Homo sapiens: one gene and its partners. The protein of the gene in region 1 purifies or fractionates together with the protein of each later gene. This does not show direct contact. Each region holds a gene or a part of one and is shown in the gene's direction. Other genes may lie near its edges.

What was found.
Region 2: the proteins of CLK2 (region 1) and PNN purify together in Homo sapiens (affinity purification with mass spectrometry; 4 studies listed by BioGRID and IntAct, with this or other methods). This does not show direct contact.
Region 3: the proteins of CLK2 (region 1) and ACIN1 purify together in Homo sapiens (affinity purification with mass spectrometry; 4 studies listed by BioGRID and IntAct, with this or other methods). This does not show direct contact.
Region 4: the proteins of CLK2 (region 1) and LUC7L purify together in Homo sapiens (affinity purification with mass spectrometry; 4 studies listed by BioGRID and IntAct, with this or other methods). This does not show direct contact.

Annotation. Positions count from the first base shown.
Region 1 is NC_000001.11:155,270,505-155,278,457, reverse strand, and holds the start of CLK2 (dual specificity protein kinase CLK2), read left to right. Parts: upstream 1-4,953; 5' UTR 4,954-5,257; intron 5,258-7,480; coding exon 7,481-7,650; intron 7,651-7,953. Other genes in the region: HCN3 (potassium/sodium hyperpolarization-activated cyclic nucleotide-gated channel 3), read right to left, coding at 590-867. UniProt on the Homo sapiens protein: Dual specificity kinase acting on both serine/threonine and tyrosine-containing substrates. Phosphorylates serine- and arginine-rich (SR) proteins of the spliceosomal complex.
Region 2 is NC_000014.9:39,178,239-39,183,743, forward strand, and holds the end of PNN (pinin), read left to right. Parts: intron 1-852; coding exon 853-1,008; intron 1,009-1,085; coding exon 1,086-1,224; intron 1,225-2,264; coding exon 2,265-3,625; 3' UTR 3,626-4,982; downstream 4,983-5,505. UniProt on the Homo sapiens protein: Transcriptional activator binding to the E-box 1 core sequence of the E-cadherin promoter gene; the core-binding sequence is 5'CAGGTG-3'. Capable of reversing CTBP1-mediated transcription repression.
Region 3 is NC_000014.9:23,058,040-23,064,150, reverse strand, and holds the end of ACIN1 (apoptotic chromatin condensation inducer in the nucleus), read left to right. Parts: coding exon 1-46; intron 47-573; coding exon 574-715; intron 716-1,076; coding exon 1,077-1,222; intron 1,223-1,627; coding exon 1,628-1,735; intron 1,736-1,875; coding exon 1,876-1,983; intron 1,984-2,528; coding exon 2,529-2,853; intron 2,854-2,966; coding exon 2,967-3,067; intron 3,068-4,676; coding exon 4,677-5,003; 3' UTR 5,004-5,587; downstream 5,588-6,111.
Region 4 is NC_000016.10:226,413-233,714, reverse strand, and holds the start of LUC7L (putative RNA-binding protein Luc7-like 1), read left to right. Parts: upstream 1-4,265; 5' UTR 4,266-4,375; coding exon 4,376-4,436; intron 4,437-5,312; exon of another isoform or gene 5,313-6,378; coding exon 6,379-6,473; intron 6,474-7,302. UniProt on the Homo sapiens protein: May bind to RNA via its Arg/Ser-rich domain.

The DNA of each region.
Region 1 (7,953 bases):
GCTTTGCCGCCTCAGTCACTCTGAGTCTCGGCCCCGCCCCGCCGCCCCCGCCTTCAGCACTAGGGACAGCGACCAGAGCTGAGGTCTGGACCCCCCGCCCCCTTCAGCGTCCCTATTTTTCCTGGTAGTCTGTCATGCTGAACTAGGCAGGTGCTAAGGAGCGGGTGTGGGGATGGGAGATGGCGGAGCTCGGCTTCTCCCTCAGACTGGCCCCGATACTTAGAATATAATTTCCTAGATCTCCAGCAAGCAGGACTGGAGGAGGCAGGGGTCCCAAACTCTGGTAGTTCCTTTGGTCCGGATGGGGTCCCGGGTTCCTGAAAGAGGAAATCCAGGTCTCTGGAGATCCCCTGATGTCTGCTTGCCCCTTCTGGTGCCCCCAGCCTGTCCAGGCACGGAGGACCTCCGGCAGGGGATACCCGCCCAGGAATTCCCAGGCTAGACTGGTGCAAGTGACTCTCCCGCCCCACCAAGGGACCCCGGGCTGGAAATGAAGTGACCGTGGAGGGTGGGGCGGGCCGGGTCCCGGTGTCGCTGCCCGCGAGGGTGGGATTGATGTACCCTGCCCTCCCCGCCAAGCCCCCAATACCGGAAGTCGCTGTAGGGGTGGATGATCCAGGCCCCCGCTGACTTCACCCGCTCCTGCTCGATTTCCACTGCTTTGTGGCTGCCGAACACCCGAAGGGAGAACTTGTTGACCGTAGGCTGGAGCAGCGTCCCAAGGTGCCTCCTCTTAGGCTCAGGCCCAGATTTGGGGATCGGACCTGAGGCCGCGGTCGCAGGCGGGGGAGCAACGGGAGGCACCGCCTCCAGTCCAGGGGTCGCCCCTTCGCTGGCCCCCGCCGCCGGCCGCTGCTCTGCCTCCATGGCGCCCACCCCGCTTACACGCTCGGCCTCCTAGAGCCCTCTGTGGCCATCAGGTACCCGCAACCCCTCCAGAGCAGGAGTCGGCGCAGCCCCGCGGGCTCTAGCGGAGGCGTCGTAGGCTCGGAATCGCCGGCGCGCGGGGCGGAGGGGGTGTGTGCTAGACTGGCGGGCGGCGGGCGGGCTGCGCGGCGCCCCCTGGCGAGGGCCGCGCCAAGACCGGGCGGGGCTGGGACGCCGGGATCCTGGAGGAACTCCGAGAGGGGCGTGGCTTAGCAAAGAAGGCGGGGAGCGCAGCCTGAGCCAGGGAGAGGGCGTGGCCTAGCGTTGGCCTTTCATCCACTGAGAACCAGGGAGGAGGAGCCCCCTGCAGTGGCGGGAAAATCGGACGCGGGTTTGTAGCTTGAAGGACTTGGGAGGGAGAGGGATTGGGGACCAATGGAAGAAGTGGAAATGGCTTTTGGGATTCTTCTCCACTCTCGCCCAGGGACTTCTGTCCTGCTCCCGTCTTCTCTCAACACTGTCCTAGGCATATTCTTGTCTTTTGGTCTCCTCCGAACTGCTTCCCCTAGTATTTAATTTCCTAATTCATTCTGTCAGCCTTCACCAAGTGCAACTCTGCCTGTCATTGAGTGGATGCTGAGGAAACAAAAATGAATACAAAAGTCCTAGTCTTAGCATCTCCATGTAGTAATGGAAAACAACACAAAACAAAACAAAAACAAAGGCCTAGCCATAAAGCCACTGCTCATCTGTGCCCAACGACAGACAGGTAAATTGCAGTGCTATGCGAAGTGCTACAAATTCCTAAATATCTCAAATTCTCCCCTTCATCTCCAATTCTTATTACCACTGCCTCATTTCAAGCCCTCAGCATTTTTTCACTTAAATTACTTCGGAAACCTCTAAAAGAGTCTTCAACCTCTTCCAGGCCAATTCTTCTTCCATTCCCTGCCAGTTACCTTCCTAAAATCCAACTATGGCTGTGTCACTTGCTTGAAGCCCATCAAGCTTTCCCATCTTCTACAGGGGTACATTTAAGCTGCTTAGCATGGTGTACCAGGCCCAAAAAATTTGGACCTAGTTTCAACAGTCTCTCTTCTGACAGTCCCTCTCTTGAAAGCCACAGCCCCAATCATGCTGAAAGACTTTGTGCTGCCTTGTCTCTATGCTTTTGCAAATATTTTCTCTGCCTGGTATTCTCCTCCAATTCACTTTCGAACAGTTGGTTCAGATCTTGCTTTCTCTAGGAAACCTAGGAACACATTTCCAACTCTCCTTTCCTCAGGTAGGGTCTATTCTAGAGCTTTTTTACAGCAGCCAGGGCACCACTGTTTTGAGCAACTCATGTCACAGGGCTACCATTATTATTATTATTTTAGAGATGAGGTCACACTATGTTGCCCAGGCTGGTTTTGAACTCAGAGCTCAAGTGATCTTCCTGCCTTGGCTTCCCAAAGTGCTAGGATTACAGGCATGAGCATGGTCTCATTATTTATTTACAGATTTTCTCTCCTGTTAGATTGTGAAACTCTGAGAAACAGGAACCTTGCACCTGGCATAATTCTGGACACATAGTGGACATTCAGTAAATGCTTGTTGAATGAATTAATAATCTAGGAAAATGTTCCAGGAGGTGGAAGTGAAATCTTTACTTCTCTCTCCCCGACTCCTTCATTGATTGCTCTCCATGTTCTATTCCAGGGAACTTCTCTAAACTATGTCTGGTTATCTGATCTAACCTCCATCTGACCATCCTTCATCCAGCTCCTCTCTAATATTTCCTGACTTTATTTATTTACTCATTCTAGAGTCAGGGTCTTGCTCTGTTGCTCAAGCTGGAGTGCAGTGGTGTGATCATGACCCACTGCAGCCTCAAAGCAATCTTCCCACCTCAGTTTCCTGAGTAGCTGGGACTACAGGTGTGAGCCACCTTGCTCAGCTCCCTGACTTTAATATCGTTATTCTCAGATTATATTATTTCTCTTTCAATTGACCTTTCTGACCACTTCTCAATTCCTTCTGTAAAGTCTCTAACTCTTTCTCTTTCTCATTTTCTTTTTTTCTTTTCTTTTCTTTTTTTTTTTTTTTTTTTTTTGAGATAGAGTCTCACTCTGTCGCCCAAGCTGGAGTGCAGTGGCACGATCACGGGTCACTACAGCCTCAACCTCCCCAGGCTCAGGTGATCCTCCCACCTCAGCCTCCCGAGTAGCTGGGACTACAGGTGGGAGACACCATGAATGGCTAATTTTTATTTTTTATTTTATTTTATTTTAGACACAGTCTCACTCTGTCGCCCAGGCTGGAGTGCAATGGCACCATCTCGGCTCACTGCAACCTCCACCTTCTGGATTCAAGCGATTCTCGTGCCTCAGCCTTCCAAATAGCTGGGATTACAGGCACCTGCCATCACACCCGGCTAATTTTTGTATTTTTAGTAGAGACAGGGTTTCACCAGGTTGGCCAGGCTGGTCTCGAACTCCTGTGCTCAAGTGATCCACCTTCCTGGGCCTCCAAAACTGTTGGGATTACAGGCATGAGCCACCGCGCTTGGCCTAATTTTTGTATTTTTTTTTTTTTTTTTTTTTTTTTTTTTGAGACGGAGTCTCGCTGTCGCCCAGGCTGGAGTGCAGTGGCGCAATCTCGGCTCACTGCAGGCTCCGCCCCCTGGGGTTCACGCCATTCTCCTGCCTCAGCCTCCCGAGTAGCTGGGACTACAGGCGCCCGCCACCTCGCCCGGCTAATTTTTTGTATTTTTAGTAGAGACGGGGTTTCACCGTGTTAGCCAGGATGGTCTCGATCTCCTGACCTCGTGATCCGCCCGCCTTGGCCTCCCAAAGTGCTGGGATTACAGGCGTGAGCCACCGCGCCCGGCCTTGTATTTTTTTAAGAGTCTGGGTTTTGCCCTGTTGCCCAGGCTGTCTCAAACTCCTATGCTTAAGTGATCCACCCACGTTGGCCTCCCAAAGTGTTGGTATTACAGGCGTGAGCCACCTCGCCCAGCCTTCCTGTTCTTTTTTAAGATTTAGTAAACTGGCCAAGCGCCGTGGCTGATGCTTGTAATCCCAGCACTTTGGGAGGCCGATGGGGGAGGATTGCTTGAGCTCAGGGGTTCAAGACTAGCCTGGGTAACAAAGTGAGGCACTATCTCTACAAGAAAAAAAAAAATAGCTGGGCGTGGTGATGCGCGCTTTTTTTTTTTTTTTTTTTTTTTTTTGAGACAGAGTCTCGCTCTGTCACCCAGGCTGCAGTGCAATGGCCCGATCTCGGCTCACTGCAACCTCCGCCTCCCGGGTTCAAGCGATTCTCCTACCTCAGCCTCCTGAGTAGCTGGGATTACAGGCGCCCGCCACCATGCCCGGCTAATTTTTGTATTTTTAGTAGAGACGGGATTTCACCATGTTGATCAGGCTAATCTCGAACTCCTGACCTCGTGATCCGCCCGCCTCGGCTTCCCAAAGTGTTGGGATTATAGGCGAGAGCCACCGCGCCCGGCCCTAGTAAACTTGTATTTCTCACACATTATGTAAGCCACCTTAGGATACAGTTCTCAAGTAAGTCCCCCTTTTCGGCACCCGATTCTCCAACCCTCCATTGCTCAAACCTTTCCTCCATGGCTGTGTCCCCACCCCGAGTCGTGCATAACTTTTGTTGATGACAAAAGGTGGCAGACTTTTGTCCTGGGGATAGGTAGGTGAAGTGTTTTAAGAAATGGTTATTTTCAGGCTATGCAGAAGAATGAGACTTCACCATCAAGCCTCACTACAGTCAGGCTTGCAGAGCAGCGACACTGTATTGACAATGACAATCCTTTCTTTTAAACTCCAAACCTAACTAAGCCACACGTCTCCATGCAAAGGGTAAAAGATTGAAGACGGAGTGGGAAAGGACAGGAGGCGGGGCATAGCGGGCCTGGAAGGCTTCCAGCTTGTCCCTGTGGACCCTCCTCGCCCCTATGAACTTCCGCCCCCAGTACCTCCGAGGCTCTGACAGGCGGATGCCTGCCAACTACGTGAGCACGTGGTGGCGCGCGCGGTCCTGGGGGCGGAGCCCAGGGGGTAGCTGGGAAGCGACGCAGGACGTCGGTCCGTGCGTACGTGCTCGCTCACGGCGGCGGCGGCGGAGCGGAGAGGCCAGAGCCGGAGACCGAGCTGGGATCGGGCCCCGGGCGGGGGCGGTGCGAGCGGCGCCAAGCAGATCTTAGGGGCGGGGACGGAGCCGGGGCGGGCGGGACTGAAGCGGAGCCCGGGAACGGGGCGGGAGGTCCCAGGGTCCCGGGTTGGGGGGGTGGAGCAGCATTTCGTCGCCGCGGGGGTGCCGGGACTCCGGCCGCAGTGTCGCCGCCATCACGGACTTCCTGTGGGACAAGCGCACGGGCCTCGCCGCCAGAACGGTGAGCGCGCGGGTTGGCTGGCCGCGCGAAAAGATGGCGACCGCGGGGCGGGCGGGGTTAGGCTTGGGTTGGGGGCAAGGGACGGGGGCGAGATTTGGAGAGGAGGAGAGTTGAGACCTACGAAGCGACGGAGTAGGGAGATGAGGGGGAAGGAGGTCGGCCTGCGTTAGATGTACCAAGAAGACCTGTAGGAAGCTTGGGCGGAACCAGACTAGAAGGGATGATAGAGTAAGGATGGGAGTGGTTCCAGAGATGTGAAGGAGTGGAATATCAAAGTTGGACTCGGGTCCAATCAAAGCTGGAGGGGAGGAATACATCACCGTGTCACTTGGAACATGCAGGAAGAATTTGCCTGTAGGAGTTCTGGATTTTCTGAGTAAGAAAGGAAAAAGCAAAAGATTTCAAACTTGAGAAAGGTAGGCTAGTGATGTTTTGAGGGGACAGTGCTGTGAGGCCGTTTGATGGTAGTATGTGGTGAGATGGCATTTATGTGGCTATGCTGATTAGGATAACTATGCTGGGAAAATCTTGTGCTTGCAGCTTGGTATGCTACCGGCCCCAGTTACACCAAGAATGCATCAAATACCACCCTCCTCAATTTGGGGAGGTTGGGAAGAAGTGATACAGAATGGTGGTCAGACATCGGAATCATTAAACCTTTTGCATACGCGATTCTCATACACCCCCACCAAGACTTATGTCCCTGGGCCTGTTTCATTTTATTGTGCCTTCCTATTCTCATCTTCCTGGATTGTGACAGTGATTTTTCTCTTTTTTCCTTGAAGGAAAAAAAGGATTTGTGAACCATCCCATTCCAATTCCATTAACTGGAAGGTGGCCAGCTGTCAGCTAAGTAGGGCTGATATTAATTAAAAACCACTTACTGGCCAGGCGCGGTGGCTCACATCTGTAATCCCAGCACTTTGGGAGGCCAAGGCGGGCGGATCACCTGAGGTTGGGAGTTCGAGACCAGCCTGACCAACATGGAGAAACCCTGTCTCTACTAAAAATACAAAATTAGCTGGGCGTGGCGGCGCATGCCTGTAATCCCAGCTACTCGGGAGGCTGAGGCAGGAGAATCGCTTGAACCCTGCAGGCGGAGGTTATGGTGAGCCGAGATTGCGCCATTGCACTCCAGCCTGGGCAACAAGAGCAAAACTCCGTTTCAAAAAAAAAAAAAAAAACACAAGAAACAGTTGTTATCTACGTCTTAAGCACAAGAGTGGAGGGGCCAGATGGGATGCTGACTGTATTTTGTGGCCTACTACATTAAAACCTCTCAAGGGAGAGTTGGCCAAAGATGTGAGAGATGATTAAGTTAATTCAAGGGGCCCGACCCAGATCCCTGGAGCTGATAGTATTTGGCGTTTACCTGGTATATGTAGAAACCTGGGAGACTGGATTCCTACCCTCAGGACACTGATAGTCTACTTGAGGAGATGAGATGTACTCTTAATGAGTGTACAACATTTATCATAACTGTAAACCAAAGCTTTACTCTATTGACTTGTGAGGAACTCAGCATCACACAGATCTATATCTTAGATCCTGAACGGGGATACACTGTGGCAGTCTCCATCGGTCGTCATACACTTTGCTCTGTAGTGAACTGTGTCCTAGACCTGAAGGTCTTCATGGAGCTGTGTTTGAAGAAAATAAGGATAGAACACTTGAACTGGCTGGGTGCGGTGGCTCACGCCTGTAATCCCAGCACTTTGGGAGGCCGAGGCAGGAGGATCACGAGGTCAGGAGTTTGAGACCATCCTGGCCAACATGGTGAAACCCCGTCTCTACTAAAAATATAAAAATTAGCCAGGAGTGGTGGTGCGTGCCTGTAATCCCAGCTACACAGGAGGCTGAGGCAGGAGAGTTGCTTGAACCTGGGAAGTGGAGGTTGCAGTGAGCCGAGATTGTGCCACTGCACTCCAGCCTGGCCACACAGCGAGACTCTGTCTCAAGAATAAAATAAGAACACTTGAACTGAGGGGTGGGTAATGAGGGATGGGTTTGGGGGCTTTCTAGAGTTTCAGCCAGAGTTAGTAGGTGGCTGTACTCCAATAAGGAGGAATTGTAAGTACAGAGGAAGACTGAGGAAGTTGTGCCTGGTAAAAAGAGGCAGAAATAAGAGGGGAAAGCAGCTTAGCATCTTTGGAGCAGCCAGTCCTTGGAGGAGATTTCTGAAAACTCGAAACTTTCCTATTTCCGCTTTCCCTTGCCTTCCAGATGCCGCATCCTCGAAGGTACCACTCCTCAGAGCGAGGCAGCCGGGGGAGTTACCGTGAACACTATCGGAGCCGAAAGCATAAGCGACGAAGAAGTCGCTCCTGGTCAAGTAGTAGTGACCGGACACGACGGCGTCGGCGAGAGGACAGCTACCATGTCCGTTCTCGAAGGTGAGGCCTCAGGAAGAGATACTCAAACACAGGGTCACTCGCTCATTCCTTTGTTCAACAAATACTTATTGGTTATATGCTAAAACCATTGCCTTAAGTAGCTGGCTGAAGGTAATGTCGGGATAGATAACCAAAGAAGCCATTTGGGCTGCAGTGTTAAGTGTTAGAATACATAATGAGGAACTGAGGACGTACCCAGTGCGTTTGGTTGGAGTGGGGCAGGATGTTAATTCAGATAAAACATTGCAGAGAAAGCAACATCTGTATATGTCTGGAGGACAAGTAGAGTCAGGTGGGGGAAGT
Region 2 (5,505 bases), on another chromosome or scaffold:
TGTGAAGCGGCCAGGTGCAGTGGCTCATGCCTGTAATCCCAGCACTTTGGGAGGCTGAGGCAGGTGGATCACCTGAGGTCAGAAGTTTTTCGAGACCAGCCTGGCCAACATGGTGAAACCCTGTCTTTACTAAAAATACAAAATTAGCCGCCTGTGGTGGCATGCGCCTGTAATCCCCAGCTATTTGGGAGGCGGAGGCAAGAGAATCACTTGAACCCTGGAGGTGAGGTTGCAATGAGCCAAGATCACACTATTGTACCCCAGCCTGGGCAACAGGCGCAAAACTCCATCTCAAAAAAAGAAAAAATGTGAAGCATATGCAGATACCTTTTTTTTTTCTTTTTCTTTTTTTTTGTAGAGATGGGGTTTTATCATGTTGCCCAGGCTGGTCTGAGCTCAAAGCAATCCACCCACCTCAGCCTCCCAGAGTGCTGGGATGACAGGTGTGAGCCACTGTGCCCGGCCTGCAGATACCTTTACATAGTGAAAAAAAAAAAAAAAAAAAAAATTTTTTTTGAGATGGAGTTTGGCTCTTCTTGCTCAGGCTGGAGTGTAGTGGCGTGATCTCAGCTCACTGCAACCTCCGCCTCTGGGGTTCAAGTGATTTCTCCTGCTTCGGCCTCCCAAGTAGCTGGGATTATAGGTGCGTGCAACCACGCCCTGTTAATTTTTTTGTGTTTTTAGTAGAGATGGTGGTGTTGGCTTCTGACTTCAGATGATCTACCTGCCTCTAATGTTTCACGTAATTAGTATGTGTAATAACTTTTTATCATAATTGAACTGAAATCATATATACCTTTTGTTGTAACTATTTCAACACGTAAGTATTAAAGCAGGCTACTTAACTTTTAGCAAAAGCGGCGCCAGGAAATTGAACAAAAACTTGAAGTTCAGGCAGAAGAAGAGAGAAAGCAGGTTGAAAATGAAAGGAGAGAACTGTTTGAAGAGAGGCGTGCTAAACAGACAGAACTGCGGCTTTTGGAACAGAAAGTTGAGCTTGCGCAGCTGGTGAGTGGTAATTTGGAATTCTAAGATTGGTAATCCTTTGTGTTTACAAAAGCACTGACCCTTTACCTTTTCTTTAGCAAGAAGAATGGAATGAACATAATGCCAAAATAATTAAATATATAAGAACTAAGACAAAGCCCCATTTGTTTTATATTCCTGGAAGAATGTGTCCAGCTACCCAAAAACTAATAGAAGAGTCACAGAGAAAAATGAACGGTAAGTATGCGAAGAGGTCCATTGAATTGTTCATAGTGGGTAAGGTAATATGTTCATATGCACACGTTTGTTTTCTAAAATAATTATGATTCAGTGATTGGTTTGCTGTGTTTGCTTTTTTTTTTTAAATAAGATAATAAGATATTCTAGGCCGGGCGTGGTGGCTCACGCCTGTAATCCCAGCACTTTGGGAGGCTGAGGCAGGCAGATCATGAGGTCAGGAGATCGAGACCATCCCGGCTAACATGGTGAAACCCCGTCTCTAGTCTCTACTAAAAATACAAAAAAAATTAGCTGGGCATGGTGGTGGGCACCTGTAATTCCAGCTACTTGGCAGGCTGAGGCAGGAGAATCACTTGAACCTGGGAGGCAGAAGTTGCAGTGAGCCGAGATTACGCCACTGAACTCCAGCCTGGGCAACAGAGCTAGACTCCATCTCAAAAAAAAAAAAAAAGATACATTCTGAGATGCTGGTGAGTTTGTAGTATAGGAATATTTGTATCATGATGGAGTTTAATGTGAAAGTTATAGACAGTGCTTATGCATCTGTATTCCTTAAGCATTTGTGTAAAATTACTTTTTTTTGCATGCTATTATTGTTCTGATAAAATGCTAATAAGACAAATGTGAAAACCAACTCAGTTTCTAGATGGAAAACACATGGAAGGATAGACACTGCTAAGATGATGATTTATCTCTTTGGGATCAGAAAAATTAATATATATGATTTTATGCCAAAACTGGTTCTGTTTTACAGAAGTTTTATTTTTCATCAGACATAAAGATTGATCTGTTTTCTTCATCAGTTAGAAAATGTGTAGTTCTGTCTGCCACAATTTCTAGTATGTAGATTTCCCATGGATCTTTGCTTTTATAATTTTATGTCAGTTTGTGGTTACTTAATTGCCATAATCTTTTGTCATAACTTTACAAAAACAAATTCAGATGAAGCTTAATGACAATTTGTGACCAGTTATAAAATTATGGCTTTGAATTTTCTTAATCGGTAAATTTTACACATGTAAATTTTTATTCTTTAGCTTTATTTGAAGGTAGACGCATCGAATTTGCAGAACAAATAAATAAAATGGAGGCTAGGCCTAGAAGACAATCAATGAAGGAAAAAGAGCATCAGGTGGTGCGTAATGAAGAACAGAAGGCGGAACAAGAAGAGGGTAAGGTGGCTCAGCGAGAGGAAGAGTTGGAGGAGACAGGTAATCAGCACAATGATGTAGAAATAGAGGAAGCAGGAGAGGAAGAGGAAAAGGAAATAGCGATTGTTCATAGTGATGCAGAGAAAGAACAGGAGGAGGAAGAACAAAAACAGGAAATGGAGGTTAAGATGGAGGAGGAAACTGAGGTAAGGGAAAGTGAGAAGCAGCAGGATAGTCAGCCTGAAGAAGTTATGGATGTGCTAGAGATGGTTGAGAATGTCAAACATGTAATTGCTGACCAGGAGGTAATGGAAACTAATCGAGTTGAAAGTGTAGAACCTTCAGAAAATGAAGCTAGCAAAGAATTGGAACCAGAAATGGAATTTGAAATTGAGCCAGATAAAGAATGTAAAACCCTTTCTCCTGGGAAAGAGAATGTCAGTGCTTTAGACATGGAAAAGGAGTCTGAGGAAAAAGAAGAAAAAGAATCTGAGCCCCAACCTGAGCCTGTGGCTCAACCTCAGCCTCAGTCTCAGCCCCAGCTTCAGCTTCAATCCCAGTCCCAACCAGTACTCCAGTCCCAGCCTCCCTCTCAGCCTGAGGATTTGTCATTAGCTGTTTTACAGCCAACACCCCAAGTTACTCAGGAGCAAGGGCATTTACTACCTGAGAGGAAGGATTTTCCTGTAGAGTCTGTAAAACTCACTGAGGTACCAGTAGAGCCAGTCTTGACAGTACATCCAGAGAGCAAGAGCAAAACCAAAACTAGGAGCAGAAGTAGAGGTCGAGCTAGAAATAAAACAAGCAAGAGTAGAAGTCGAAGCAGTAGCAGTAGCAGTTCTAGTAGCAGTTCAACCAGTAGCAGCAGTGGAAGTAGTTCCAGCAGTGGAAGTAGTAGCAGTCGCAGTAGTTCCAGTAGCAGCTCCAGTACAAGTGGCAGCAGCAGCAGAGATAGTAGCAGTAGCACTAGTAGTAGTAGTGAGAGTAGAAGTCGGAGTAGGGGCCGGGGACATAATAGAGATAGAAAGCACAGAAGGAGCGTGGATCGGAAGAGAAGGGATACTTCAGGACTAGAAAGAAGTCACAAATCTTCAAAAGGTGGTAGTAGTAGAGATACAAAAGGATCAAAGGATAAGAATTCCCGGTCCGACAGAAAGAGGTCTATATCAGAGAGTAGTCGATCAGGCAAAAGATCTTCAAGAAGTGAAAGAGACCGAAAATCAGACAGGAAAGACAAAAGGCGTTAATGGAAGAAGCCAGGCTTTCTTAGCCATTCTTTGCAGCAGAAGATTTCTTGATAAAAAAGGATTACCTTTCCTTGTAAAGAGGATGCTGCCTTAAGAATTGCATGTTGTAAAAAATCTTTTTGGAAAATACAGACTGTTTGTTTACCAGACATTCTTGTACTTTTTGCATAATTTTGTAAGAGTTATTTATCAAAATTATGTGAGGTTCCAAAATATGTAAAAATGATAATAATAAAAAAAGATTAACATCCCTTGTCATCTTTTTTAAATATCCTATACTCTTCAGTAAGAATCTGTATATTTTAATAGGCAAATCTTTAAGTCTGTTCCCTTCTAATTCTGTATCATACATTGCTTTTGTAGAAATAAATGTGTGTTTATTTCATTATTTTTGGGATGTCCTCGTTGACACTTGTATAATAAATATCCTCTTTATCATTTTCAGCTTTTAACACTAGATACTGCACGTGATTAGAATGTTTTTGAAGGTTTCCTCGTTTTTATTTGCCTTGGACAGTTTTTAGTTGTCAGAGTCAGAGCTTTGCAGCTTTGAGGGGGAACAGTTCTCTTTAAAATCATTTGCTATTTTCTATTCTCCCTTGTTATTTTAATCTAAGCATTTTCCCCCGTTTCTCATATTTTAACCATATGTTCGGTAGATAACTAAACAGTATGATCTGGTTGGCATTTTCTTCCTGATGATGGGAGCGTCATTCTTTTGTCTTCATGGTTACTTGTGTGATATAACATACATCTGTTAAAGAAAATCACTTCTTTCTAGGGGAGGGAGGTAGAAAAGTATCTTTCAAACTTGGTTTTTGAGTTTGTGTCTTGTCTTAACTTTGTGTTGGCTCTAACTTAAACATGCTGATATGTGTTTTCAAGAATTTTGTTTAAGGAAGTATTGTATGGAAGTCCACAAAATGAAGGAAGTTCATCTAGGTTTTAATATGTAAGCAAGATAACACACAAGTGTACCAAGTGATTATTAACTTTGTTGTTTTACAAATTTGTATGAACTTGGAGTATCTGTTGGCCATTACTATACATGTGCAAATAAATGTGGCTTAGACTTGTGTGACTGCTTAAGACTAGTACTTGTATTAACTTTCTGATGCTTTATACAAGAGAGCACTTAAATTGCATCCTTCTTTGAGTTTAACACTGTAGCTTTAGCCTTGACTTTGAATATTCATTTTGCCTTCCCTTGACAAGTAAATGGTTACAGTGAAAATGTGAAGAAGTATTTCCAGTTAGTTTTTGTGTGTATATAACTCACTTGTGTAAGTGGATGTGTTAAAAGATCTCTTTTTAAAAATCCTTTTATTGGAGTAATTATTAAAACAGTAAATGCATAGAGCTTTGCACAGCAATCTGTATCCATGAGCCAGTTCCACCACTAGTACCTTCATCTGTGGCTTATCCAGCAAAATGTTTCATTTCCTGTGTGCCCTGGCAGGAAAGAGGTTGGTAAATAGTGAATTAAAGGGATGATCATAAAATTTAACCTGGTTAAAAAGCACCTTATTTGATGACAGTTTGTATGCACTAAAATCCTTTATACAAATTAAGTTTTGTCTACTGATTTGTACCTGGAAAATCTGAACAATATTCATGTTGCTTACAGAAAAGGCTAGTATTGGCTTGAAGCTCTACTATAGGAGGGGTAGTAATGGGGGTATAATGAATGCTTGAGGGGAAAGTAATTTTCAGTAATTTCAGTTAAGCGCTACTGATCATAGTATGTGAAAGGAATTTTTCTTATATGGAATGCTTGATGAATTTGCATGTCATCCTTGTGCAGGGGCCATTTTAATCTTTTTTTTTTTTTTTTTTTTTCTCGGAGACAGGGTCTTAGTCTGTCACCCAGGCTGGAGTGC
Region 3 (6,111 bases), on another chromosome or scaffold:
TGGGACCCATGACAAGGGGCTGAAAATATGCCGGACAGTCACTCAGGTAAGGCTTCTGCACCCCAGTGTCAGGGGAAAGGTGGGAGCAGTAGATGCAGAGCAGCTAGCTGAGGAGCTGAGATAAAGTCTTTGGAGGGAACTTCCCTGTCTGTGCAGAGGGTTGGGTTGACTGACACTTTCAGGGGTCAGACTACCAAATCCAGCTGGCTACCTGTTACAAATAAAGTTTGATTGGAACACAACCACACGAGTTCATTCACTTTTGTCTGTGGCTGTTTGTTCACTACAACATCACCAGAGTTGAGTAGTTGCAACAAACTATGTGGCCTGCAAAACCTGAAGTACTGCTTTGCTCTACAGAAAAAATTTACTAACTCCTGTCTTAGTTTTCCTCAAGGCAAAGTTGAGGCACTAACAATCCCAGGATCTGGTAGAAGTGAGCCGATAACGAAATACCCCTAGCGGAAGGAACATGCTAGATTGACTGCTACTCTTACCGGGGAACCAGAGGCTGAAAAGAATATGCCAGTTTGGTGTTTAACAGACCTGCTGTGTTCTCTGACACCTTGATAGGTAGTACCTGCAGAGGGCCAGGAGAATGGGCAGAGGGAAGAAGAGGAAGAAGAGAAGGAACCTGAAGCAGAACCTCCTGTACCTCCCCAGGTGTCAGTAGAGGTGGCCTTGCCCCCACCTGCAGAGCATGAAGTAAAGAAAGGTGAGTGACATATTGTGAGAGAAATGTAATGCGGCTCCCTGAATTCTCAGAGCACCTCATTTGGATCGCTGAAAGCTTTGAATGTTTCCTGCCTTTCATTATATTTTTTCGTATATCATATCTTTCTCCTACATATTAAGTAAGCTACTTGAGGGCCAGATTTGACTCTGTTTAATCTTTGAATCTCCATGATGAGGAGGTTAGCCTAGCACAGTACTTTGCAGATTATAGGTGCTCTGCACGTTTAGATTAAGGAGTGGCTGCTTGGTATAAAAGAAAGGGAACCGTGAGAGTTACATTGAGGGTGAAAAGAGCCAGTATTGCTTCCTACCAAAAGCTGTTCTTGTGGTCTTCTTGATAGTGACTTTAGGAGATACCTTAACTCGACGTTCCATTAGCCAGCAGAAGTCCGGAGTTTCCATTACCATTGATGACCCAGTCCGAACTGCCCAGGTGCCCTCCCCACCCCGGGGCAAGATTAGCAACATTGTCCATATCTCCAATTTGGTAAGTCATTGTTTCTCACCATCCCAGCTTGCTTAGTGGTTAAGTTTGAGCTTTAGGCTTATGCCTCCTAGGTTCCACTCATAGTTGAACTGGTCTACCAATAGATTAAGTTACTCACTGATCTTGAGTGAGTTACTTAACATATTTACCCATCTAAAAATGAGGGGGAAAAGCTGTTGCCCTGCAGGGTTGTTTTGAGGACTTGCAGAAGGCCTCACATACAACGTCTCAATTAGTGCTGGGAAGCACCACCACTCTTCTCACATTCTTACTGCAAGGTTCCTAAACTCTCTGCCCTCCCCCAAACCTTGAAACTATACTCCTGTGACAGCAGCTCGGGAAATCTAAAGATTGGGTGGTGGTCTTGCCTTCTGCTAGACCCTGAAAGTCTATTTTCATTGGCAGGTCCGTCCTTTCACTTTAGGCCAGCTAAAGGAGTTGTTGGGGCGCACAGGAACCTTGGTGGAAGAGGCCTTCTGGATTGACAAGATCAAATCTCATTGCTTTGTAACGGTGAGGGGAAGAAGCTGATTCTATAGGTCATGGCATATATTTCCTTTTGTGACCAGTGTGGGCAGGTTTAAGGGTGTTGCAGCACGTGGGAAGGGTTGCAGACACACTGTGACCCTCCATCTTCTCCCTTCCTCCACCAGTACTCAACAGTAGAGGAAGCTGTTGCCACCCGCACAGCTCTGCACGGGGTCAAATGGCCCCAGTCCAATCCCAAATTCCTTTGTGCTGACTATGCCGAGCAAGATGAGGTAAGAAACCTAGGGAGAGGAAAGAGAGGAGGGGCAGGGGAAGCCATTATCTGCTAGATTTCAGCTGAGATCCTTGCCAGACCTGCAGTCTCTGAGCTTCTGTTCTTTTCTCTTCTTCCCTGGCTTTGGTTCCTTTAATTGTACCATGGGGCTTCAAAGTGGTACCTGGGCTCCTTTTTTTTTTTTTTTTTTTTTTGAGACAGAGTCTCGCTGTCTCCCAGGCTGGAGTGCAGTGGCGCGATCTCAGCTCACTGCAAGCTCCGCCTTCCGGGTTCACGCCATTCTCCTGCCTCAGCCTCCCGAATAGCTGGGACTACAGGCGCCCGCCACCACGCCCGGCTAATTTTTTTGTATTTTCAGTAGAGACGGGGTTTCACCGTGTCAGCCAGGATGGTCTCGGTCTCCTGACCTCGTGATCTGACCGCCTTGGCCTCCCAAAGTGCTGGGATTACAGGCGTGAGCCACCGCGCCCGGCCATCCTGGCTCCTTGAGTGGGAGTGATATCACCTCTATCCTAACTGTCCTTGTCCCTCCTCTCCCCACAGCTGGATTATCACCGAGGCCTCTTGGTGGACCGTCCCTCTGAAACTAAGACAGAGGAGCAGGGAATACCACGGCCCCTGCACCCCCCACCCCCACCCCCGGTCCAGCCACCACAGCACCCCCGGGCAGAGCAGCGGGAGCAGGAACGGGCAGTGCGGGAACAGTGGGCAGAACGGGAACGGGAAATGGAGCGGCGGGAGCGGACTCGATCAGAGCGTGAATGGGATCGGGACAAAGTTCGAGAAGGGCCCCGTTCCCGATCAAGGTCCCGTGACCGCCGCCGCAAGGAACGTGCGAAGTCTAAAGAAAAGAAGAGTGAGAAGAAAGGTAGGTACTTAGCTATGGGGTACGCATACCCACTAGTAGGTGGGAAAGGGACCCAGATGGGATGGGACAGAGGGTCAGATGCATCATATCTGGTTCACTTTTTTCCACCTCAGAGAAAGCCCAGGAGGAACCACCTGCCAAGCTGCTGGATGACCTTTTCCGAAAGACCAAGGCAGCTCCCTGCATCTATTGGCTCCCACTGACTGACAGCCAGGTGAGTGCTCTTCTTCGTGCCCTGCTCCCTAGTGGCACTGAGGCTTGAGGTCAGGGTGAGGGGAGATTCATGTGACTGCGAGAGTGAGTCGGCCCAAGTACTTCCTAGGTTTAGGATAAACTAAGCATCACAAAAAGGCAGTTTTCAGTTAATTGGTATAACATAGAGAAACCAGACTCAGGAGGGTAAAGATAGACACGCAGATAGCAGCTGAAGTTTGTGGATGTCTGGGAAGCTGGCTGTGCCGACCAGGCTTCTTAGAACTTGATTTTAGGCCGTGCGTGGTGGCTCACGCCTCTAATGCCAGCACTTTGGGAGGCCGAGTCGGGTGGATCACCTCAGGTCAGGAGTTGCAGACCAGTCTGGCCAACATGGAAACCCTGTCTCTACTAAAAATAACAAAAATTAGCCGGGTGCAGTGGCAAGCGCCCGTAATCCCAGCTACTTGGGAGGCTGAGGAGGAGAATTGCTTGAACCCGGGAGGCGGAGGTTGCAGTGAGCAGAGACCGTGCCATTGCACTCCAGCCTGGGCAACAAGAACAAAACTCTGTCTCAGACAATTAAAAAAAAAAAAAGAACTTGATTGTATTTAGCTGAGAAATCGTGTTTTATAAATTCATTTCCCTGCTTTTTAAGAGTTTTTGCATCTTTAACTTAGTTTCTTAGTAATGGGCCTTTTGGGAATTTTAGGCTTATGCTACTCAAAAAAGAGATTTGTTCACATCTACGCTGACGGTAGGGAGCTAGGGAAATACCAAGGGCCAGGCATGGATGGTGCCAGTACCTGTCAATGTGTGTAAAAGTTGAAACTTGGTGGCTAGGCATGGTGGCTCATGCCTGTAATCCCAGCACTTTGGGAGGCTGAGGTGGGCGGATCATCTAAGCCTCCATCTAAGCCAGGAGTTTGATACCATCCTGGCCAACATGGTGAAACCCCATCTCTACTAAAAATACAAAACTTAGTGGGGCATGGTGGCAGACACCTGTAATCCCAGCTACTAGGGAGGCTGAGGCAGGAGAATCACTTGAACCTGCGAGTCGGAGACCACAGTGAGCCAAGATAGCACCACTGCACTCCAGCCTGGGCGACAGAGTGAGACTGTCTCAAAAAAAAAAAAAAAAAAAAACTGGCGGGGCGCGGTGGCTCACGCCTGTAATCCCAGCACTTTGGGAGCCTGAGGCGGGCGGATCACGAGGTCAGGAGATCAAGACCATCCTGGCTAACAACGGTGAAGCCCCGTCTCTACTGAAAATACAAAAAAATTAGCCGGGCGTGGTCGCGGGCGCCTGTGGTCCCAGCTGCTCAGCAGGCTGAGGCAGGAGAATGGTGTGAACCCGGGAGGTGGAGCTTGCAGTGAGCCGAGATCGTGCCACTGCACTCCCAGCCTGGGCGACGGAGCGAGACTCCGTCTCAGAAAAAAAAAAAAAAAGGCTGAAACTAGGAGGGAGAGAGGTGCTCTAAGAAAGACAGGATGCAGTTGTTGAGCCCCCAACCCCTTCCTGTTTAACTGAAAAGCTGACCCTGAGCTAGGAGGCAGGGTCCAGGCACAAATGGAGGCTGTGACCAGGACTGAGCTGCCTATTCTCTGCCTTTCCTACCTGGCTACAGATCGTTCAGAAAGAGGCAGAGCGGGCCGAACGGGCCAAGGAGCGGGAGAAGCGGCGAAAGGAGCAAGAAGAAGAAGAGCAAAAGGAGCGGGAGAAGGAAGCCGAGCGGGAACGGAACCGACAGCTGGAGCGAGAGAAACGTCGGGAGCACAGTCGGGAGAGGGACAGGGAGAGAGAGAGAGAAAGGGAGCGGGACAGGGGGGACCGAGATCGGGATAGGGAAAGGGACCGAGAACGAGGCAGGGAAAGGGATCGCAGGGACACCAAGCGCCACAGCAGAAGCCGGAGTCGGAGCACACCTGTGCGGGACCGGGGTGGGCGCCGCTAGCTGGGAAAACACTAGAGCTGCAGGTACCAGCCACTCGGCCCCAGGGGGTTATGGCCACAGAGGGATAGGCACAGTCTCCACCACCCTGGAGCCAAGGGTCTTTCACATCACCTATCCCTACATACATACCAAATGGAAAAGTGGCCATCCTTTTCCCCCCAAACACACCCCCTTAACCTATCTCTTGGGACTTAGCCCGACCCTCCCTCTCATTTCCCATTAAGTCTGAGAGGCAAGAGCTAGGTTAGGCAAGGAGGTGGTTGGCCAGAGATGGGGAACAGCCAGGTGCCCCAGTCCTCTGATTTTTCCTCCATCCTGCTTACCACCTCCCTGGGTACTTACAGCCTTCTCTTGGGAACAGCCGGGGCCAGGACTGGGTCACCTATGAGCTGAATCAGCATCTCCTCCTGAGTCCCAGGGCCCCTGCAGTTCCCAGTCTCTTCTGTCCTGCAGCCCTTGCCTCTTTCCCACAGGTTCCACTTTATATCCACCTTTTCCTTTTGTTCAATTTTTATTTTTATTTTTTTTATTATTAAATGATGTGGTCTATGGAAAAAAAAATAAAAATCTGACTTAGTTTTAAACTGTGTGAGTGGCTTTCTTTGGGCAGGTTAAGAAGCCACTGTGGATATCTGAGCGTGGACATCTGAGGATATCTGGAGTAGGAGTTGCTCTCATTCCATGTGTTCCTTTAGGCTGACTGCTTCCTGCTTATTGAACTTCCCACGTCTTTTATCCCCTGCCTTGGCCCTGACCAACCCAAAGCTGTGGACCTTCCTCATTCGGGAAGGCATGGAGCAACCTGTGTCCGTGGCGGCACCCCAGCAGGGCTAGGAGGGTGGGTCCTCTTCTGGTTCCTGGTCCTGTGCACGGTTAAATTAGGGGTTTGGTCACCTGCCTGCCACCTTGGTGCCTCCCACAACTACCACCAGGGGGCGGCAGCTCCTCGCTCTGTTGGCCCCTGTAACCGAGCTTCCCAAGAAGGGTTCCACTGCCCGCCTCCGACCTCCCGCCGATGTCGTGCCTCTGTTCCCGACCCGCTCCCTGGGCCCGGGCCTCGGACTCTCTGGACCCTTCTGCCGTCCTTAAGTGTCCCCCAGCTGACCTG
Region 4 (7,302 bases), on another chromosome or scaffold:
CCCAGGCACAAGTGATCTTCTCACCTCAGCCTCCGGAGTAGCTAGGACTACAGCTGTAAGCCACCATGCCCAGCTAATTTTTTTCCTTTCTTGTAGACATGGGGTTTTGCCATATTAACCAGGCTGGTCTTGAACTCCTGGACTCAAGTGATCTCCTGCTTTGGCCTCCCAAAGTGCTGGGATTTCAAGCATGGGCCACTGTGCCTGGCAGTTGTCTGATTTCTAGTAACTGTGGCAGTTTGGTAGGTGCGTAATTCAGATGATTTAATTGCTTTGTTCAAATGGCCAATTGGAAGCAAAGTCATGCCTTAAAACATTATTTAAAACTTGTCAGCCGGGCACAGTGGCTCATGCCTATAATCCCAGCACTTTGGGAGGCCGAGGTGGGTGGATCTCAAGGTCAGGAAATCTAGACCATCCTGGCTAACACTGTGAAACCCCGTCTCTATTAAAAATACAAGAAAATTAGCCAGGCGTGGTGACGGGCGCCTATAGTCCCAGCTACTTGGGAGGCTGAGGCAGGAGAATGGTGTGAACCTCGGAGGCGGAGCTTGCAGTGAGCTGAGATCGCGCCACTGCACTCCAGCCTGGGCGACAGAGTGAGACTCTGTCTCAAAATAAATGAAAACAAAACTTGTCTAACCGTGTCTGGACTTTTGATGCTTCTAGCCCATGAACAGTCTTTGTTGTATTCTTAGAGTAAGTCTTTTTTCCCCCTTCCAGGGCAGCAATCATATTAAATTATCATTTGTGAAATGATTTTTTAAAATTTAAATTTTATTTTTTAATTAATTAATTTTTTTGAGGTGGAGTGTCAAAATAGACCACTCCCGGCCTGTTTTTTTTTTGAGATGGAGTCTCCCTTTATCGCCCAGGCTGGAGTGCCGCGGCACAATCTTGGCTCACTGCAACCTCCGCTTCCTGGGTTCAAGTGATTCTCCTGCCTCAGCCTCCTGAGTAGCTGGAACTACAGGCGTGTGCCACCACACCAGGCTAGTTTTTTTGTATTTTTAGTAGAGACAGGATTTCACCATGTTGGCCAGGCTGGTCTTGAACTCCTGACCTTGTGATCCACCCACCTCGGCCTCCCAAAGTGTTGGGATTACAGGCGTGAGCCACTGTGATCGGCCTTTTTTTTGGCCGGGGGGAGAGGGAGTTTTGCTTTTGTTGCCCAGGCTGGAGTGCAATGATGCATTCTCGGCTCACCGCAACCTCTGCCTCCCAGGTTCAAGCAATTCTCCTCCCTCAGCCTCTCGAGTAGCTGGGATTACAGGCATGCGTCATCACGCCTGGCTAATTTTGTATTTTTAGTAGAGATGGGGTTTCTCCATGTTGGTCAGTCTGGCCTCAAACTCCTGACCTCAGGTGATCGCCTGCCTCGGCCTCCCAAAGTGCTGGGATTACAGGCATGAGCCACTGCCCCCAGCCTGGCATGTTTTTTAAGTTTTAATTTCATTTTTGAGACAGGGTCTCATTCTTTTTTTTTTTTTTTGGCCTCCCAAAGTGCTGGGATCACAGGTGTGAGCCACCGTGCCTGGCCAAGACAGGGTCTCGTTCTTTTGCCCAGGCTGCCATGCAGTGGTGTGATCACAGCTTACTGCAACCTCAACCACCCAGGCTCAATCCATCCTCCAACCTCAGCTTCGAGTGGCTGGGACTAGAGGCACATGCCACCACACCCGGCCTATATTTATTTATTTATTTTTATGTTTGTTAATTCTTGTATTCAACCAACAGTGAGTGTTGTGTGACCCTGTTTTAGGTGCTGGGGATACAGAATGAAGCACAATCATTAGCTGTAGACAACGTAGCCTAATGGAGCTGGATCCACCACTGGCAACCTTAAAGTTACCTCCCTTGGTCCTTAAGATGAAATGCAACTTCAAACTCTGCCATGCTTAGCATCTTGTTTCAAAACAAATAATGGTCCACCTAGTTTGCTGCTGGTAGCCCTGTGGCTCTATTAATATTAACCATCTATTGATGAAGTTAACTTTCATAAAGGATTCTACGAAAGTTCAGAGGCATGAAGTATGTAAGGACAAACAAGTACTGGTCCGCAACAAAAATAGCATCGGTATTCTGCTTTCAGAAAAGCCAAGAAAACCAAGAAAAAATTCATTCTGAGTATATACAGAACTGCTGGACAGAGGTCATCCTATACGTGTGGTACACGTACAAATATGACATAAGAAGAAGTATGAATTATTGCAGTCATTATTAAACAACGAAGTATGCCAAATTAGTCATCAGGTTTCAAAGAATCATAGCCTTCTTTCCATAGGTCCCGCCACGTTTTAAGGAAACGTGCCTTTTCTGTACATTTGAAGGCAAGTTCTTCCACTTGAGCTGATACTGCAGATGTGGCTTCAAGAAGTTTGGTTAATGAAAAGGCTGCGTCTCCGATCTGCAGCCCCACTTCCTCCAGCGGGTCCACCGTTCGGCCGCTGCTCCTGCTCGGAACTGGCCAGCCCAAACTCACTGGGCTGCCAGGGTAAGATGCTGCAGAGGCGTCTGAAGAGGAGGGAGAAGGAGGCGGCGGGGGCGGCGAAGAAACCTGCAACTTCTCAGGGTCGGCCATGGGGAAGGGCTGGCACCGCGGAATCCGACCCGAGCAGCCCAACGGACACCCTATTTATTTATTTTAAATAGAGAGCAGGGGCCTGGCGTTCTGGCTCACAGCTGTAATCCGAGGACTTTGGGAGGCTGAGGTGGGCGGATCACCTGAGGTTAGGAGTTTAAGACCAGCCTGGCCAACATGGCGGAACCCCGTCTCTGCAAAAGTACAAAAAAAAAGTTAGTCGGGAATGATGGCGGGTGCCTGTAATCCCAGCTACTGGGGAGACTGAGACAAGAGAATCGCTTGAACCCAGGAGTCAGAGGATGCAGGAAGCCGAGATCGCGCCACTGCACTCCAGGCTGGGCGACAGAGGGAGACTCCGTCTCAAAAATAAATAAAATACGGCAGGGCGCGGTGGCTCACGCCTGTAATCTCAGCACTTTGGGAGGCCGAGGCAGGCAGATCACAAGGTCAGAAGTTCAAGACCAGCCTGGCCAATACGGTACAACACCGTGTCTACCGAAAATACAAAAATCAGCTGGGCATGGTGGCTGGCTACTTGAGGTCAAGACTTTGAGACCAGCCTGGCCAGCATGGTGAAACCCCGTCTCTACTTAACATTCAAAAATTAGCCGGAGGGGGTGGCGGGCGCCTGAAATTCCAGCTACTGGGGAGACTGAGGCAGGAGAATCGCTTCAACCCGGGAGGCGGAGCTTACAGTGAGCCGAGATCGCGCCACAGCATTCCAGCCTGGGTGACAGAGCAAGACTCCGTCTCAAAAAAAAAATAAACAAATAAAAAATAAAGACCGGGCGTGGTGGCTCATGCCTGTAATCCCAGCACTTTGGGAGGTTGAGGCAGGAGAATCGCTTGAACCCAGGAGGCGGAGGTTGCGGAGAGCCAAGATCGCGCCATTGCACTCTAGCCTGGGCGAAACTCCGTCTCAAAAATAAATAAATAAATAATAGAGGTTTAATATAATAGAAGTATATGCCAGACTATGCACACATAAGTGCATGCTATAATTCTATTATCACATAAAATAACTGCTTACATATGCCTTTTCTTTAGTCCCTGGGACAGTAGACCATGAGCTCACAAAAGGACGACCACGAGGTTGTAATCATAGAACCTAATATTAATGCCATGACTGATGGCCAAACGTGGTGGTTCACACCAGTAATCCCAATACTTTGCCGGGCTGAGGCGGGAGGATAAGGAGCCGGGGAGGTCGAGGCTGCAGTGAGCGGTAATCGCGCCACTGCATTCCAGCCTGGGCGACGGAGCAAGACCCTCGCTCTAAATAAATAAATAAATAAATAAATAAAATTCCATGCTTTATTTAACTTTCACAAAAATCATATGAGGGGCACCTTTAGAACCCTCATTTCACAGATTTAAAAAAACGAGCGTCGGGGAGCTAAATAATATGCTCACGGTTTCATGGCTAGCTTAGAAAAAGCACGGATTCATCTTGTTTTTGATTGACTGTATTTCATTTTATTGTAGTTTACCCTCCGTAGAGACTCGTTTGAGGTCCTGGGGGTCTAGAGTAAAATCAGGGTTGGGATTTTGGTTCCGCCGTTGGACAACTTGCGACCACTCAGAGCCTCAGCCTCCCTAAGCACCCACCCCAGAAACTACATTTCCCAGCAGGGCGTGCGCCGGCGCCGTCGTACTTCCTCCCGGCGTCCCCCGCGGCGGGAAAGAGCCGAGTGGGCTCGAGGCCGACGCGACCATCGTTTGTCGACGCCGCTGCCACCGCCTGCCTGAGAGAAGTCGTCGCGGCCGACCCCGTCGCCTCCGCCGGCTACCATGTCCGCCCAGGCGCAGATGCGGGCCCTGCTGGACCAGCTCATGGGCACGGCTCGGGACGGTGAGTCAGAGCGGCCAACCAGGCGAGGGTCTGGGGTGGGAGTGAGGCGAGGCCGCCGGGCGGCCTGAGGCGGGGGCCGCGATCGTCTGCGCCTGCGCCTGCGCGGGGCATCGCTCCTCCTCCCCCGCGCTCCGACCGCAGGCGCCGGGCCTTTGTCTAAGCCGGTGCGTCTCTGAGGCGGCCGTGGGTCCAGGTCGGGCTCCTCTCTCGGAGTCTGCGCCATGGATGGGGCTTCAGCCTCCTTCCTATGTACCGTCCTGCTACTTCCTCCCCGGCGGGCGCCGCGGCTCCGTGCCCCTCCGCGAACTGTGGAGTCGGCGGAGGGCTGGAATCAGCGTGGGCTCCAGGTCGCTGGCAGCCGGGTGGCAGAACTCTTCCGAGGCTCCTTGGGAAGAAGCTACACCCGAGGGAGCCGGATGGGCCTCGAAAACCTGGCCCGCTCTGGTTCTGTACCATTGCAAGGGGAACCGTAAACTGAGCTTTTCTAACGTGGGTTTCTGCCAAGTACTTTTCCAGCTGCCCCCTTCCCCCCAGCACACAGGAGAGCCTCTGTGTAGCCAGCGCTTGACAGTCGTTAGGTAGGTTGTACTGTGTAGGGAGGAGCTCAAGATCATGATGGTTGTCACAGGAGAAAGCGGTTGCATCTTTGCAAAACTATATACCTGCTGTGGTTTGTGTTTTCTTTTCTGCTGAGTAATGAAGTTGTAAGTTCACACTGGCACATTCTCAGGGCTGTGCAGATTATTTGCACTTTATTTCATAGGTGAATAAGTGCTTTTTAGCTTTCTTTGTATATTGAGTTGCTTTTGAATTGCTTCCCATATTTTTATTTCATACAAACTGAACAATTGTGGCCCCTCTATTTTATTTATAAAGGTTCAGTGTATCTTTGCCTGCCTACATCAATCTGCAAGGGAGTTGCAGAAAGCCTCATGTTCATCGAGCCGTGAGTCACAACCAATTTCTAAGCTGTTATAACAAAAAAGTGTTTGCTTTTTTTCACAAGTAACTTTAAAAGTGTAGTTTAGAAAGAAAACATTTTCAATAAAAAGACACTACATTAATCCTGGATGCTTGCAAATCCTAAAATATATTCCTCCTCTAGCGTTGCACAGCTCTGTGTTGTATACACAGACTAGCTTTAAAATTTGTCACATACCACTTTACCTTTACTTTTATGTATCATTCCCCCGACTTCCTTACTGCAGGTGTGGGCAAGAAAACTTTTCCTTTAACACTTTTCAACAGCGGGCATAAAATTCTGCAGCTGAGGTCTTGAAGAATGCAGATGGGTACAGTATGTGTTGGAGCTCACAGTGTGTATTGACTAACCTAGTTCCTTTTTTGCTTTTTTTGGTATTGTCTTGTTAAAAGTGACTCCCAGGTAGCAACTCTCTTTTTTAAGGGTGGGAACGAAAGGGACGTAGGAAGAATAGATCTAGATTATTTAACAGTCTTCGATAGAGTTTGAAAGCTTTCTTCTTCATTCAATTTTGGGCAAAATACTGCCTCTGCATTTGTTCATAACAAAAAGATTAGATTAATAAGTAGCTTTTGTTGGTGGAAATTACCAGCTCTATAAGTCACCCTTGGTGGTTCATGGACCTCTGATTAGCTTGGGTTTTGCAGTCTCATTGCCACATGTATATGTGGAGCCAATGGCCTTTTGGTGCTCAGCTGTTTACGTCTGACTCCTTGACTTCTTTGGTACAGTGATGGAGTCAGATCTCATTAAGTGTGATTCTCCATGATATAACTAGCCTCAAAAAAATGTGTATTCCACTCCAGTTGTAAATATCTTTAGATCAGCTTTTCATTGCATTTGATGGGGAGAACACAGAAATGATAGTCTGCAAATCATCCAGGTGAATTGTTATACTAGTTATTTTTTGGTGGTTAATGTGATAATATTGTCTTATTTAAAACCACAAATGAATTTCAGGAGACGAAACCAGACAGAGGGTCAAGTTTACAGATGACCGTGTCTGCAAGAGTCACCTTCTGGACTGCTGCCCCCATGACATCCTGGCTGGGACGGTAGGTGCATTTTGGGGGACCTCATGGAACACTCTGACATGAGTGCTGTATAGGCAGTGACGGTTTTTCTATGTTGAATTTTGTTTTAACTTAAGTCTCTTTTTCTCTAAGTGGCTTAATTATGGCAGGTGTTCCTCCACTCGTATGTATGTTTGCATGCATGCATGCGATGGAGTGTCACTCTGTGTTGCCCAGGCTGAAGTGCAGTGGTGTGATCACAGCTCACTGCAGCCTTGAACTCCTGGGCTCCAGCAATCCTACCACCTCAGCCTCTTGAGCAGCTGGTACTACAGGCATGAGCCACTGCTCCTTTCTCAATCCTCCACTCTTCAACAGGCAGAAATCCCTGATGCCCTTAAAATGATAGATTCTATTCATTTGGTAGGATTTTATATTATGGAACAAATTTCACTGTTGTAAAATTCTGTCTGTAAAGTTACCAGATTTTTTGTAAAGTCATTTATACTGAGATATTCACAACTAAATAGGGCAAGTATTCTAATTTGGCTGTAGCAAAAAATATGCTTTAGGTCAGCCTGAAGTTCTTTGAAGATTCTGCGTGGGTTTGTTTGACCTCAAGTTGGTTGTGTGGAAAACTTTTGATCTAGCAAGGTACATTTTCTTCCCGCAATTTTTTGGTTTTTAAAAATCAGTTGAGGATACATTGATTTTGTAGTTTTGTGTTGTGCCACCCCTTCAAGAAATCAACATGCTATCTAATGAATATAGAACCCTACAATTTTAAGTTCACTTCAGATGAACAAAACAGATAAACGCTAGCTTTGTATAATGTGCATTTATTCGAAGTAAGAATTTGAAAAGACTGAAT